4 linked regions of the Homo sapiens genome follow. The protein of the gene in region 3 purifies or fractionates together with the protein of the main gene of each other region. This does not show direct contact. Each region holds a gene or a part of one and is shown on either strand. Other genes may lie near its edges.

The links.
Region 1: the proteins of SQSTM1 (region 3) and NTRK1 purify together in Homo sapiens (affinity purification with western blotting; 6 studies listed by BioGRID and IntAct, with this or other methods). This does not show direct contact.
Region 2: the proteins of SQSTM1 (region 3) and NIPSNAP2 purify together in Homo sapiens (affinity purification with mass spectrometry; 4 studies listed by BioGRID and IntAct, with this or other methods). This does not show direct contact.
Region 4: the proteins of SQSTM1 (region 3) and CASP8 purify together in Homo sapiens (affinity purification with western blotting; 5 studies listed by BioGRID and IntAct, with this or other methods). This does not show direct contact.

The regions. Positions count from the first base shown.
Region 1 is NC_000001.11:156,859,542-156,863,664, forward strand, and holds the start of NTRK1 (high affinity nerve growth factor receptor isoform 2 precursor), read left to right. Parts: upstream 1-1,323; 5' UTR 1,324-1,393; coding exon 1,394-1,605; intron 1,606-4,123. UniProt on the Homo sapiens protein: Receptor tyrosine kinase involved in the development and the maturation of the central and peripheral nervous systems through regulation of proliferation, differentiation and survival of sympathetic and nervous neurons.
Region 2 is NC_000007.14:55,967,585-55,971,084, reverse strand, and holds part of NIPSNAP2 (protein NipSnap homolog 2), read right to left. Parts: intron 1-3,500. UniProt on the Homo sapiens protein: Protein involved in mitophagy by facilitating recruitment of the autophagy machinery required for clearance of damaged mitochondria.
Region 3 is NC_000005.10:179,827,405-179,830,904, reverse strand, and holds part of SQSTM1 (sequestosome-1), read right to left. Parts: intron 1-3,500. UniProt on the Homo sapiens protein: Molecular adapter required for selective macroautophagy (aggrephagy) by acting as a bridge between polyubiquitinated proteins and autophagosomes.
Region 4 is NC_000002.12:201,263,536-201,267,035, forward strand, and holds part of CASP8 (caspase-8 isoform 2 precursor), read left to right. Parts: intron 1-2,925; coding exon of another isoform or gene 2,926-2,951; coding exon 2,952-3,256; intron 3,257-3,500. UniProt on the Homo sapiens protein: Thiol protease that plays a key role in programmed cell death by acting as a molecular switch for apoptosis, necroptosis and pyroptosis, and is required to prevent tissue damage during embryonic development and adulthood.

The DNA.
Region 1 (4,123 bases), on a different chromosome or scaffold from region 3:
AGCCTCCTAGGAGGCCTCCTTGTCCTCTTTGGAGACCCCTTAGCGCCAGGCTCCGTCACCGCCTAGTCCCTTGGTTCTGACCAAGATCCCGAGGAAGAAGGCGATCACTGTGTAGGGCTCTGCCTCCGTCTGGTCACCTTCTTGAGCTCAGGCTGCTCGGTCGGTCTGTGTGTCCCTGTCTCGGGGACTTGGGGGGCCATCCGTGCTGGGGCCTTGGCGGAGAGAACCGTGAGCCTCTAGGAGGTCGTCCTTCCCCCGCTCCCTGGGGCCTTGCCTGTCTCCCCGCCAAGAGACACCCCTCTTCCCTTCGCTCTCCCCAGCTTGAGACGGATGGGTTAGTGCAGCCACGGAGGCTTGCGCGGTGGGAGGGGTTGGGACCAGCCTTCTGCTGCCCTGGGTGCTGGGGATCCCGGGGCTTTCCAGGTGCTCGGCCTCCAAGGTGCGCGGTCCTCAGCTCCACCCGCGGGCGGCTCCTGCGTCCGAGGAGCTAAGAGAAGATCTATTAATTTCTTCACGAATAAATCGATGCTCTTGTCAGGGAGGCGATCGATGTCAGCCCTGCCCTGCCTTGCCCTATCCTGCCCCGGGGCCGGCGCTGGCTGGCCGGGGTCAGGGACTGAAGCTGAGACCTGAGGCGTTGCTCACTGGGGGCTGCAGATCGCACCCCCAGGCACCCAGCGCGGGCGGGGAGCTCGCGCCTTTGCGCGCGGGCTTCTCGCGCCACCCTGTGGCTTCTCTTGGAGGCGCGGTCTTGGCTCTCCGGACTCCCTTCGGCCGGATTAGGCGACCCCTTCCCTTTCTCTGCCCCGTCTGTGTCTTCCTCCCCAGGTTCTGCGATTGATCCTTTGGTAGTCCTTTTCGTTTTCTTCCTAGAGTTCGGAGAATGTTCTACCTAACTTACTCCAAGTGACATGCTCACTCCCCTAGGCACGCGCGCCGCGAGGATGGAGCGCTGAGCCTGGGGCTGGCTAGGATGACCTGGACAGCAACCTTTCCTCAACGCAGTCATCTTCCCTCCTCCCCAAATGTAAAAATGCAGCTGCTTTAAGCTGAGAGAAATAACGTATCAGCTTCCCACCTCCGGCCTCAGCAGACACCTCCGAGGCGTTCTGCTGCGGCCCCTCAGCGTCTGCCGGAGCTGAGGCGGATCCTCGGGGAGAAGGCTGACGCTGGGGGCCCCTAACAGGGGAGGGGGCAGAGGGGGGGGCGTCAGAGAGTAGGAAGCGGGTGGAGAAGAGGGGCAAGGCGGGGCCGGGCGGGGGCCGCTGGCTCCGCCCTTTCCTGGCGGCTGGGTCTTTAACACCGCCCAGCGCACATGTCGGGGGAGGCCTGGCAGCTGCAGCTGGGAGCGCACAGACGGCTGCCCCGCCTGAGCGAGGCGGGCGCCGCCGCGATGCTGCGAGGCGGACGGCGCGGGCAGCTTGGCTGGCACAGCTGGGCTGCGGGGCCGGGCAGCCTGCTGGCTTGGCTGATACTGGCATCTGCGGGCGCCGCACCCTGCCCCGATGCCTGCTGCCCCCACGGCTCCTCGGGACTGCGATGCACCCGGGATGGGGCCCTGGATAGCCTCCACCACCTGCCCGGCGCAGAGAACCTGACTGAGCTGTGAGTGTCCGGCGGGCGGTGGGGGGGCGCGGGGACAGGCAGGCATTGCAGTGCCCCGAGGGCGCGGACTCGCTGCTTGTTTGCTGGTCAGGCAGGACGAGCACGGCGGAAGGCTGGCACCACGCAGCCTTCGGCGCTGCCCGGGCGTTCCTCCGCAGCCGCCGCTGCCCTAGCAAGCTTTATGGTCAGTGCCTGGATGTCCCCTAGTGTTCAGGGCAGCTGGGCCGCCGGCTTCAGGGAGATCGAAGGGGGAAATCTCCGTGGACCAGGTCTGAGAGAGCCTAGCCGTCTAGAAGGCGCTTTCTGGAGCTCAGCCAGAAGCCCCTGCTCTGTCCTACAGAGAAGGATGGTTACCAGCAGAGAAGTCCCCAGTTTGTCACCCTTACTGCCTTTTTCCTTTTCTAGGGGCAAGCCAGCCCCCGCCCACTTTCTTGTTATGAGGAGGCAACCCTAGCTTTTCTTCTGGAATTGGGGATTGAGCTGGCTGGCATTGGTGGGAGGCGGTGAGGAGCTGAGTGGTTGAGCTCTCCTCTTTCCATTTTTACCATTCCTTCCCCCAGAACCCGTTGATTTGGATCTGGGAAATGGGACCCCCTCCTGGATTTTCTCTCCCCACTCCCATCTCCCTCTCCAACCTTGTCTCTCTACCTGGGGCGGGGAGTCAGGGCCCTTGCTGAGAGACCCTCCTCCCTTTGGTACACGAAGCTGGGAGGAATCTTCAGCATTCTGCAGGACTCTGACATTCTGCAGGAATTGGTTACAAAATACTCAAGTACTTTTTAGCAGCTGGTGAAACCTATGGGAGTATGCGGTAATGACTGGCCTGGAGGTACTCAGGCATCATATGGTGATGGCTGGAAAATACTTGAATATTACATATGGCTATCATGGCCAGCAAGACATCTAGAAGAGGGGAGAACTGCTAGAAAATCCTCCTCCTGTGGCCTGGGGTTTCGAGGGTGGACAAGGAACCTTGGCCTTGTGCTGTGATGGGCTGGAAGGTATCCGAGGTGAGGATCATCACTGTCTGGAAGTTACTTGAGCAGCTTGCAGTAATTGGCACTGAGTTCCTTGGGTATCTCATGGTAATTAACGGGAAGGCACTCAATCTCTCTCTCTAATAGCTCTAGGGAGACCAGGAGTAGAGGAGATGGCCTTGTCTTGGTCTAGGCCTAGGTCTCTGCATGATGGGAGGGGGCATGAGAGACAGGTTGCCAGTCCTAGTCCAGTTCTCTCATCACCCTGGGCCTTCAGATTGGGGTCCAGACTCCTGAGTGCTCCCCATCAGGGCTCGTGTTTCCCAACTCTTTCCAAGCCCCAAGTGGGTCCAGCAGGGTAGGGATGGGAGTGGTAGGGGGAGTGGACAGGCCAGAACTGGGGACTAGCAAGCATGTAGGGTGGTGAGCTGAGATGTCCCCCTGGGTGGGGCTGCAGCCTGACATCCCCCTCCCCACTGCCTGCACAGCCCCCTCCCTCCTCACTCACCCGCAGAGCTAACGAGGAGATAATGGACTCGAATAGACAGATTGATTATGAATCCAAACGAATGAGGCAGCTTTGAGGCAGCTTTGAGCACGCTGGCCTGACAGCTCCCACACACCCTGCCAGCCCACTGCATTCTCACCCCCTCCCTGGGTCCCTACAGCTTGAAACCCTCTGGGCAGGGGCTGGGGGGTGGGTAGAATAGGGACTTGGCCTCCCTCGGAGTCAGTGGAGGTTACTTTATAGGCCTCTACTAAGTCCACAGGGAAACTTAGGACCTGATCCTGGCTGTCCTGGTGGGGCCAAGGCTGGGAAGGGAGGAAAGGAGGAAGGGAGGGGTCACTTAGGCTGGTCCTGGTTCCTATAAGTTAGGGAAAGTTAGAGGGTAGAGGGGGAGAGTTCTGAGAACCGTCAGTGAGTCAGGGGCCCCTGGCATGTGTATTGTTGGGGTGGGGGGGGCACACTAACATGTCACTACAGGGCAGCCGAGTTCTCAGGAACTCCCTGGTATGTCGGATCCAGCAGCTAGGCAGGCCCCAGGGCGTCAGCTGTCCCCTAGCCCCGAATGCCTACTCATTCTTCTTTCTTTCTTGTCTATCTCGCTTTCTGTAGCTCTCTGTCCTTATCTGTCTGTCTCCCTCCCCTTATCTGTCTTCCTTCTTGCCTGTCACTATCTCTCTGACCTCTTCCTGTCAGTTTCTCTTTCAGTGTCTCTGTTTCACTCTCTCTTTGTTTTTCTGCCCGTCTGCCCCCACCCTCCTCGTTGAGCCTTTCCATCTTTCTGTCTCTCTCTCTCTCTCTCTTGCTGTGTAAGTCAGCCAGTCTGTGCCTCTTCTCCCCTCCTCGACACTCTGACTGCCTCCTCTCATTGCTCCTCTCCTCTTTCCTGGGTCCCTCCTTGGGGTCCCTAACTGATAGCCTGTAAGACTCTTGCTTGATCTGCTGAAAAGATGGTAGGGGAGGTTTCGGTGGAGTAGGGGTTGCTGCTTGGGTGTGAAGAGGGGCCAGAGGCTATGGGGGTGCAGAGATGTTTGTG
Region 2 (3,500 bases), on a different chromosome or scaffold from region 3:
GGAAGGGTGCACTATACAAAACACTAGACTTGAAATCAAGTCAGCATTCTATGCCGGGCTCTATGGATACAAAGATAAACCAGATGCCAAGCCTATTCAGTCTCACAGGAAAAACCTATCAGTAAACAGCCAGAGTGGCCACAGATGCTGTAAACTTAGACATACACTGCAAGAGCTCAAGTGAACCCACCATCAGCTTGGCCTGGGAGGTGCAGGAGGGACTCCAGTAGGGGCACTCTGGCTCTGTTTTGGAGGGCAAGCAAGACAGGTGGAGAAGGCAGGTGCTAATTCCAGTCAATGGGAACAACATGTACAGGGACATGGAGTCATGACACTGAATGGCATATGTCTGGAATGGCAAGCTGTTTAGCAAGGCAGAAGAGCATGTGGGAGGACCGTGAGGGCGAGGCGAGGGCGACTTTATTCTGTGTAGGGTGAGATGCTGTCAAGTTTTCAAAAAAAATATAAGTGTCGGACAAGCGCAGTGCCTCATGCCTGTAATCCCAGCACTTTGAGAGGCCGAGGTGGGCGGATCATCTGGGGTCAGGAATTCAAGACCAGCCTGGGCAACATGGCCAAACCCTGTCTCTACTAAAAAATACCAAAAAAATGGCCAGGTGTGGTGGTGGACGCCTGTAGTCCCAGCTACTCGGGAGGCTGAGGCAGGAGAATCACTTGAACCTGGGAGGCGGACGTTGCAGTGAGCCAAGATCACGCCACTGCTCTCCAGCCTGGGCAAGAGTGCAAGACTCCGTTTCAAAAAAAAAAAAAAAAATCTAAGTGTCAAAAGCAGCCTGGCAGGAGCGTGGTATATGGCTGCAGCAACAAAGGCCAGGAACATGCTTCCTGGGCACCCTGGCTGCCATGCCCAGCAGCACCAGGTATGCAGAAGGCACTCAATAAATACTCACTAGATGGTCTGGGGTTAAGATGGCAGTGGGGATGAAGAGAAAGGAGTGCATTCAGAAGAAGCTTGTGAGTGCTGATCAGGCGGGGAAGAGGAAACTGAAGAAGGGAAAGGACTTAACGCTGAGACCACAGGATGAGGCAGCAGGAGCACACCGTGCTTCATTCATATGATCTTTTTTTTTTTTTTTTTTTTGAGACAGAGTCTCGCTCCGTCGCCCAGGCTGGAGTGCAGTGGTGGGATCTCGGCTCACTGCAAGTTCCGCCTCCCGGGTTCACGCCATTCTCCTGCCTCAGCCTCCTGAGTAGCTGGGACTACAGGCGCCCACCACCACGCCCGGCTAATTTTTTGTATTTTTAGTAGAGACAGGGTTTCACCATGTTAGCCAGGATGGTCTCGATCTCCTGACCTCGTGATTCGCCCACCTTGGCCTCCCAAAGTTCTGGGATTACAGGCGTGAGCCACCGCGCCCGGCAATATGATCACTGTTATTTACAGACTGTGCACTACACCTGTCAGCCACTGACGATGCACAGATGAACCTGGCCCTGACTTCACGGGAGCTCAGTTTGCTGGTGAGGGCAGACAGACAAACACGATCACAACTCAAACAGACAAGCTCTTCAATGATGACACAAGGAAGTAGGTAGCTGTTGTGGCATGGGTAAGGGCAGCCTGGGGGCCTGCTCTAACGAAGTACCTGTTGAGTGGAAGACTGGAAAGAAGAGGAGCAGATGGTCAGGTAGATACCCATGGAAGGGAGATTCTAAGCAGAACCAGTGAAGGCCAAAGACACAAGTGTGCAAACAGCACCAGCATTTGGAAGCACAGACCCGGGGGAGAGAAGAGGTTGACAGACCCATGCCAAGAAGACTCCTGCCTTAAAGCAGCAGCTCCCTGACTCCCCTCCCCACCACCACACTCCATCCAGCCCCAGTACCCCGTCTTCCACACTGCTGCTCCAGAGACCTGTTCCCACACCTTTCATTTCCAGAAACTTCAAACCCAGAGGAGTTTAAACATGACAAGACTTTTCTGCCCTGCATCTAGATTTTAAAAATGAACATTTTACCATTAAAAGTTTTTCTCTATATATATTTGCTTTTTAATTTCTTTTTTTCTTTTTTTTTTCAGACAGGGCCTTGTTCTCTCATGTCAGCTGGAGGGCAGTGGCGCGATCTCGGCTCACTTCAGCCTCCACCTCCTGCGCTCGAGCAATTACCTTGCTTCAGCCACCTGTATAGCTGGGACTACAGCCCTGCACCACCACACCCTGCTAAATGTTGTAGTTACCCTGCTAAATGTTGTAGTTTTAGTAGAGACAGGGTTTCATCATGTTGTCCACGCTGGTCTTGAGCTTCTGGCCTCATGTGATCCGTGAGCCTTGGCCTCCTACAGTGCTAGGATTACAGGTGTGAACCACCACACCCGGCCCTATATTTGCTTTTTAATTTCTACTGAACCATTTGAAAGTAGAGTTTTGGGCTGGGGGCAGTGGCTCACGCCTATAATCCCACCACTTTGGGAGACCAAAGCAGGCCAAGGCGGGCAGATCACGAGGTCAGGAGATCGAGACCATCCTGGCCAAATGGTGAAACCCCATCTCTATTAAAAATACAAAAAAATTAGCTGGTTGTGGTGGCGCACGCCTGTAGTCCCAGCTAATCGGGAGGCTGAGACAGGAGAATCACTTGAACCCGGGAGGCAGAGGTTGCAGCGAGCCGAGATCACCCCACTGCACTCCGGCCTGGGTGACAGAGCGAGACTCTGTCTCAGGAAAAAAAAAAAAAAAAGAAAGTAGAGTTTGGACATAATGATACTTCTCCCGTAAATCCTTCAGCATGTACCTCCAAAACACAATGACAGAACTACAATGCTATCATCACATCTGAGAAAAACAATTATTCCATCATATCTAATATCCACTCCCTATTAAAATATCCCCAGTTCTCCCCAAAATGTCTTTCATTGCTCTTGTGGGTAGGGGAATGGGGGCAGACAGGGAGGAGGGATTAGGAACCAGTCAAGGTTTGTGTCATAGAGATCTTTCTACTAGGAAAATGTCCGCTTAGAATTCTTTAGACGTGTGGCTGGGCACAATGGCTCACACCTATAATCCTAGAACTTTGGGAGGCGGAGGGTGGGAGGACTGCTTGAGGCCAGGAGTTTGAGACTAGCCTGGGGAACATAGCAAGACCCCCCTCTCTACAAAAAAATTAAAAATTAGCAGCCGGGTGTGGTGATTCATCCCTGTAATGCCAGCACTTTGGGAGGCCGTGGTGGGAGGATCACTTGAGGCCAGGAGTTTGAGACCAGCCTGGGCAACATGGAGAAACCCCATCTCTACTAAAAATACAAAAATTATCCAGGCGTGGTGGTGCACGCCTGTAAGTCCCAGCTGTTCAGGTAGCTGAGACAGGAGAACTGCTTGAACCCAGGAGGTGGAGGTTGCAGGGAGCCGAGATCACGCCACTGAACTCCAGCCTGGGCAACAGAGTGACACTCTGTCTCAAATAAATAAATAAATAAATAAATAAATAAATAATAGCTGGGCATGGTGGTGTGGGCCTGTAGTCCCAGCTACTTGGGAGGC
Region 3 (3,500 bases):
ATGGCAAGACCCCATCTCTACAAAAAAATTTTAAAATAGCTGGGCACGGGGCTGGGCACAGTGGCTCATGCCTGTAATCCCAGCACTTTGGGAGACGAAGGCAGGTAGATCATGAGGTCAGGAGTTCAAGACCAGCCTGGCCAAGATGGTGAAACCCCATCTCTACTAAAAATATAAAAATTAGCCAGGCATGGTGGCGGGTGCCTGTAATCCCAGCTACTCGGGAGGCTGAGGCAGAAAATTGCTTGAACCCAGGAGGTGGAAACTGCAGTGAGCTGAGATCACGCCGCTGCACTCCAGCCTGGGCGACAGCGAGACTCTGACTCGGGGGTGGGGAAAGAAAAAGAAAAAAAAAAATATCTAGGCACAGTGGCACATGCCTGTAGTCCCAGCTACTGGGGAGGCTGAAGCAGAAGGATCACTTGAGCCCACGAGATGAAGACAACTGTACCACTGCTCTCCAGCCCAGATGACAGTGAGACCCGGTTTCAAAAACAAAAGAATTCTAGGCCGAAAAGCCTTTTTAACTGATTTCTGGAGTCATCAGTTGTTCCATTGTCTCCTAGCTGTTCATGTTTGTTTGCTCTTTGTATTCCCAAGTATTTACAATAACCTAGAGTTTTAGAAGCCCCTCTTTCTTTATCCTCAGGGTTCTGACACTTGACAATGATAAGCTTTGCTGTGGGGTCTTTCTCAGTCATTGTCAGGGCCGCTTTCAATCTAGAAGATAATGGCCTCATTGCCAAGAAACTATCTTGCATTTTTGTTTTTTGTTTTGTTTTGTTTTGTTTTGTTTGAGACAAGGTCTGTTTCTGTCTCCCAGGATGGAGTGCAGTGGTACAATCCAGGCTCGTTGCACCCTCTGCCTTCCAGGCTCAAGCCATCCCCAACCTCAGCCTCCCACGTAGCTGGGGCCATAAGTACACAACTCCATGCCTGGCTAATTTTCATAGTGTTTGTAGACACGGGAAGTGGGGGATGGTGTCTCCCTATGTTGCCAAGGCTGGTCTCAAACTCGTGAGCTCAAGTCATCTGCCTGCCTTGGTCTCCCAAAGTGTTGGGATTACAGGCATGAGCCACCATGCCTGGTGCCAAGAAACTATCTTGCATTCTATGTTCATTTCCTCCTTTCAGTTTTCTATTCTTTCTGGAATTCCTACTCATCCTATATTGGGCTTCTAGACTTGTTCCTACATTAGGAGGAGAGGAAAGATAAAAAAACTATCTCTATTTTGCTTTTGGAATATCTCCTTGAGACAATAGTAGAATCTAAGCCTTCTTTTGAAGTTTTTTTTCTATTTTTTAATTTTAAGAACTTTCTTATTCTGTTCCCTTTGTTATCCTTTTTCTAGTATCCTGTTCCTTTTTCATGCAGACAATGCTCTTTTGTATCTCACTGAGGACATTAACATTCTCTTCCCTTTAAGACCTTTTCTCCCATGTGTGGGGGCTTTCCTCAGATGGCTGGTGACCCAGGGGTCTGATCCCACTGAAGCACTAAGGTTGACAGGAAGCCTTCTGTGGGGCCAGCGCCATCACTAACTTTCCCTCTGCAGGGTGCCTGGGGGTCTGGCAGGCAGGAGCTGTAGGACACTTCTCTGGGGGCATTCAACCTCCCTCAGCAGGGACTCCCCACCTCCTGCCTGGCCAGGGAACTGACTGCTGGGCCCATTGCTCATTCGGGATGCCCAGTTTCAGGCTGGTGCCTCACCCTGGCCTGTCTCTAGTATCCCATGCTGAAGCTTCCCTGGGTCAGGTGCTCCTGGAATTAAACATGAGGTCTCCTTCAATTGTTGGCAAGAGCCATCATCTGGCCAAGTGGGCCCTGAAGTCTCTAGCTGACACTCCCTAGAGGTTTTCAACCCTCCCCCCTTGTTCCTGTCCCCCGATCACTCCCACCTCTTGCCTTTCCTGGTACCTGAACAGATGGTCTTCCTTCTCACCAGGATGCCCTGTTCTGGCACAGAGATTTCTGAAGCTTCCCTCAGCAGGTTGCCACCCTCCCTCCATGTCCATCTTCCAAAATCTGATCACATCTTTGTCTTTTCCTCTATTACTTTCTTTGTCTATGGTGTTTTCTTTTTTGTGTAAGCCCTTTCCTGTTATTTCAATAGAGTTTAAGGGGGGAGCAGAGGTAAAAGCAGGCTTAACTACAAGTACCTCCATCTGTAATATTTAAATTATTTTTCTCCTTTATTCTTCCCAACTTGTGATTATGAAAAGGTTGAAGCTGCCGGGTACAGTGGCTCACGCCTGTAATCCCAGCATTTTGGGAGGCCAAGGCGGGCAGATCACCTGAGGTCGGGAGTTCGAGACCAGCCTGACCAACACAGAGAAACCTCGTCTCTACTAAAAATACAAAATTAGCCAGGCGTGATGGTGCATGCCTGTAATCCCAGCTACTGGGAAAGGCTGAGGCAGGAGAATCGCTTGAACCCGGGAGGCAGAGGTTGTAGTGAGCCAAGATCACACCATTGCACTCCAGCCTGGACAACAAGAGCAAAAGTCTGTCTCAAAAAAAAAAAAAAAAAAAAAGATAAGAAAAAAAAAAGGTTGAAACAAACAGAAAAGTTGAAAAGTTGAAAGAATAGTACAATCAATACCCATATGCTTTGTAAATGGGTAATGAGACTCGCCTGTAAGCAGATCAGAGAAATTATAGAATTAGGATCTCTCCAACTTGGTGATGAAAGCGTGAGATTTTCAGGCCTTGTCGTAAGACTGGACAGGCTACTTTGTCTACGGAGTAGCCATTCTTGTATTCCTTTACTTTCTTAAGAAATGTGCTTTCACTTAAAAAAAAGACTAGACGATGCTCCGTGCCCTGCTGCCTCACAAAGCCTCTGCGTGTCGGTTTATCAAAGATCCCACGACCAGGAGGGGCCCTGTGGCTTCGGGGCCTGTAGCCTCCCAGCCAGGAGCAGCCTGGGTCTCAGTTGTGGCTCCCTCAGCAGGTTCTCAGCCCCCCAACCAAAAGGCCTTGGCACTTCACATGAAAGCTGCCGCTTACCCTACACACACTGCCACCGGGAGGCAGCTGTTGACTCGTTCGTTCCCCTTTGGGCCCTGCTCTGGGAACAGTCCCTTCTAGGCAGTTAACCTGTGAGTCATCCAGCTTATAGTTCCTCATAAAGAAAGAAACTAGCCCTAACTTCCACAACAGTCTAAGCCGCTCCTCCACTGGCTCTCCTCAGCTGAAACCACTCAGTCTATTTTACTGAAATATTCCTTGTTTGTAGAGCTTCAGGCTCCTCCCTAGTTCGGAGAAAGCAATTCTATCCACTTTAAGCCTTTAGCTTTTAGTGCTCAAAGACATCTGAGGGCCGGGTGCAGTGGCTCACGCCTGTAATCCCAGCACTTGGGGAGGCTGAGGCGGGTGGATCACGAGGTCAGGATATCGAGACCATCCTGGCCAACAAGGTGAAACCCCGTCTCTACTAAAAATACAAAAAACTAGCCGGGCGTGGTGGTGGGCGCCTGTGGTCCCAGCTACTCGGGAG
Region 4 (3,500 bases), on a different chromosome or scaffold from region 3:
GGGCATTTATATTTGGATGGTGGAATTATACATAATTTTAATTTTCCTTTTTATCTTTTCTGTATTGTCTAAAATGAATACACTAAGCATTGTTATCCTCAGAAAAAAATAATTGAGGGATGGGGGAAAGGAAGTCCTGCTTTCATTTGATTCTTTGGTTGGTTTTATTCTGTAAGATGAGACTTTAACAGAGGTTAGAATGCATTAAAAATTGTAAAGACAGTTGACCTAATGGCACTAAACAGGGTTAGATCTAGTTTAGATCTTTTCCAGCATGTGAATAAGAATGGATCTTTAAATAAAGATTTTAACTAGGTATATGTTTTAGAATAAGTCATACATGTACATGGTAAAAATTCAAACAGTACAAACTGTGCAGCAAGGTATGGGAAATAAAGCAGCTCTCACTGTCACCTCCACCCATCAGCCTTCTCACACTGCACGCCCACATCTGTGTGTAATTCTGCTTTTCTTTAACATTACTGAAGGAACTTCCTGTGCATTTTTTGTCAGAGCTCTTCTGTGAATACACAAAATATGTACTGATCAATACATTATGTAGATCACGCAGGCTCAACCACATTGATCTTCCTATTCTTTCTAGTAGCCAAATAGAGTTCCCTGGAATATGATTAATAGCTTGCCTAAATCTTCTAATGCTGATAAACAGTTGTTTCTGCTCTTTCGTTATTTCAAGGAATGCTACCATGAATAGCCTTATATATGGTTTTGAGTATACTTGTTTAAGTGAATGTAGGAAAAACTCTTGGAAGTTAAATTGTGGGCCAGTTTATGTGAATTTTATATTTTGACAGAGATGGCTAAATTACCCACCTGTTTTTTTGTTTTGTTTTGGTTTTGGTTTTGCTTTTTTTTTTTAAGAGTTGGGGTCTTGCTACCTGGGGTCTTGCCACCTGGGGTCTTGCCCAGGGTAGACCTGAACTCCTGGGCCACGTTGGTTTATTTTACTGCATTCCCAGGGCCTAGAGCAACGATTGACACGTGCTAGCAGTATCTATTGGAAATTCTGGCCAACTTGCAATAGACCTGATTATTTCTACACTGAACATGTCTAAGATAGCTATTACTATTCATTCAGGAAAGCCCAGACAATTATCATGCCAGCAGCCTGAGACAGTAGCCAGTAATAGCCTGGTGTGGTAGTTTGCTCCTGTAGTCTCAGCTACTCAGCAGGCTGAGGTGGGAGGATGGCTCTAGCCTGGGAGGTGGAGGTTGCAATGAGCCAAGATTGCGCCCTGCACTCCAGCCTGGGTGACAGAGTGAGACCCTGTCTCAAAAATAAAAATAAGAATAAAAAATAAACCAGCAAAAGTTTCTGCCCTCACAGAGCTTCCATTCTAGTGAGAGGGTAGTTTGTCATCAGGAGGGTGACGCCGGTAGGGCTGGGGGCCAGCTCCCTGCAGGGAACAAACATGATCGCAGTGGGGTGGGAGTAGGGGATGAGTCCCCAGAGCCTCTGTGGTTTCCATTTCCACACAAAAAAACCACTGCTGCTGTAATCAGGAGGGGGAAAAGATTTTTAAAAATTTTCTTTCAGGGAATGGAAGGAAAGGATATTTTTGAAAGTAAGACTTTGAAAACTAAAAGTTTTGGGTCACTTAAAAACTCAAAATCTTTAGGTCACTTTAAAAATATTTAATCTTGGAGCTGGAGGCCATTATTCTAGGTAATTAGCTGGGTGTGGTGGTGTGTCCCTGTAATCCCAACTACTAGGAGGCCGAGGCAGGAGGATTGCTTGAACCTGGGAGGCGGAGGTTGCAGTGAGCCGAGATCGCGACACTGCACTCCAGCTTGGGTGACAGAGCAAGACTGGGTCTCAAAAGAAAAAAAAAAAACGAAAACTAAATACCGTATGTTCTCACTTAAAAGTGGGAGCTAAGCTATGAGGATGCAAAGACATACAGAGGGATATAATGGACTTTGGGGATTGATGGTGGGGTTGAATGGGAGGTTGGTCCTAATAGGTCCTAGTACGTCCCCTACTTCTAAGTCTTCCAGTCTGTCCTTTGCACTTTGAATGTTAATTCCAAGTTGGATAATGTCATTCTCATTTTTACAGTCCTTTCTTAGCTCCTCATCACCTCCAGGACAAAGCCTAAACCCCTCGCCCCATGGTAATGCGGCCCCTTTGTGACATGGTACCTGGCTAGAGCTTCATCCCTTTGTCCCATCACTCTCCATCCCAGACACTTTGTAGTTACTTTATTGAGCTCCTTGTGCCTGCCTGAATGGACTTGAAAGTTCTTACCTCCATCTTTTACATTAATTGTTTCCTGTAAGAATTGTGCTTTCTCGCATTCTCCCCAAAATCCCTTCCCCATAGGAAGCCCTTCTCCCAGGCTAAGTTAAGGTTTCTTCCTCTACATCCCTACCACACTCTGGTCACAACCCTCTAACCATTGGCTTGTTTTTTTTGTTTTTTGTGTTTTTTTTTTTTTTGTGAGACGGAGTCTTGCCCTGTCACCCAGGCTGGAGTGCAGTGGTGCAATCTCCGCTCACTGCAACCTCCACCTCCTGGGTTCAAGCGATTCTCCTGCCCCAGCCTCCTGAGTAGCTGGGATTACAGGCACGTGCCTCCACACCTGGCTAATTTTTGCACTTTTAGTAGAGACGGGGTTTCACCATGTTAGTCAGGCTGGTCTCAAACTCCTGACCTCGTGATCCGCCTGCCTTGGCCTCCCAAAGTGTTGGGATTAGAGGCGTGAGCCACCGCGCCCAGCCCATTGGCTTGTTTGTATGTCTACCTTCCTAAACAGTAAGAGGGAACTTGTCTGGTGTTCTTTTTTTCTCTCCTGTGCTGACAGCACAATGACCAGTACCTAGTAGTTGCAGTAGCCTTTGATGAACAAGCCAGCAAATGGTACTTTTCTTCCTTATCTGAACATACCATTTATTTTGACTTAGATTATATTCTCCTGCCTTTTAAAAAGATGGACTTCAGCAGAAATCTTTATGATATTGGGGAACAACTGGACAGTGAAGATCTGGCCTCCCTCAAGTTCCTGAGCCTGGACTACATTCCGCAAAGGAAGCAAGAACCCATCAAGGATGCCTTGATGTTATTCCAGAGACTCCAGGAAAAGAGAATGTTGGAGGAAAGCAATCTGTCCTTCCTGAAGGAGCTGCTCTTCCGAATTAATAGACTGGATTTGCTGATTACCTACCTAAACACTAGAAAGGAGGAGATGGAAAGGGAACTTCAGACACCAGGCAGGGCTCAAATTTCTGCCTACAGGTGGGTGGAAACTCCCATTGTGGGACTGGGAGGTGTGGGTTGAATGGACAGCCTCTGAGCTGATTGGGGCTTTTTTTTGTGGTACCCTGCCTAGTGCCTGGGAACCCAGCAGTGCCACAATTCTAAGCTTCTACAGAAAGACAGTAGTGCCTTGGGTGGTCCTGCTAAAGGCTGTAAAACTTAGCTTCTCCCCACCCTAGAGAGAGTGGGTAAACAAAGGCGTGAGAGAGAAACCACATTCAGT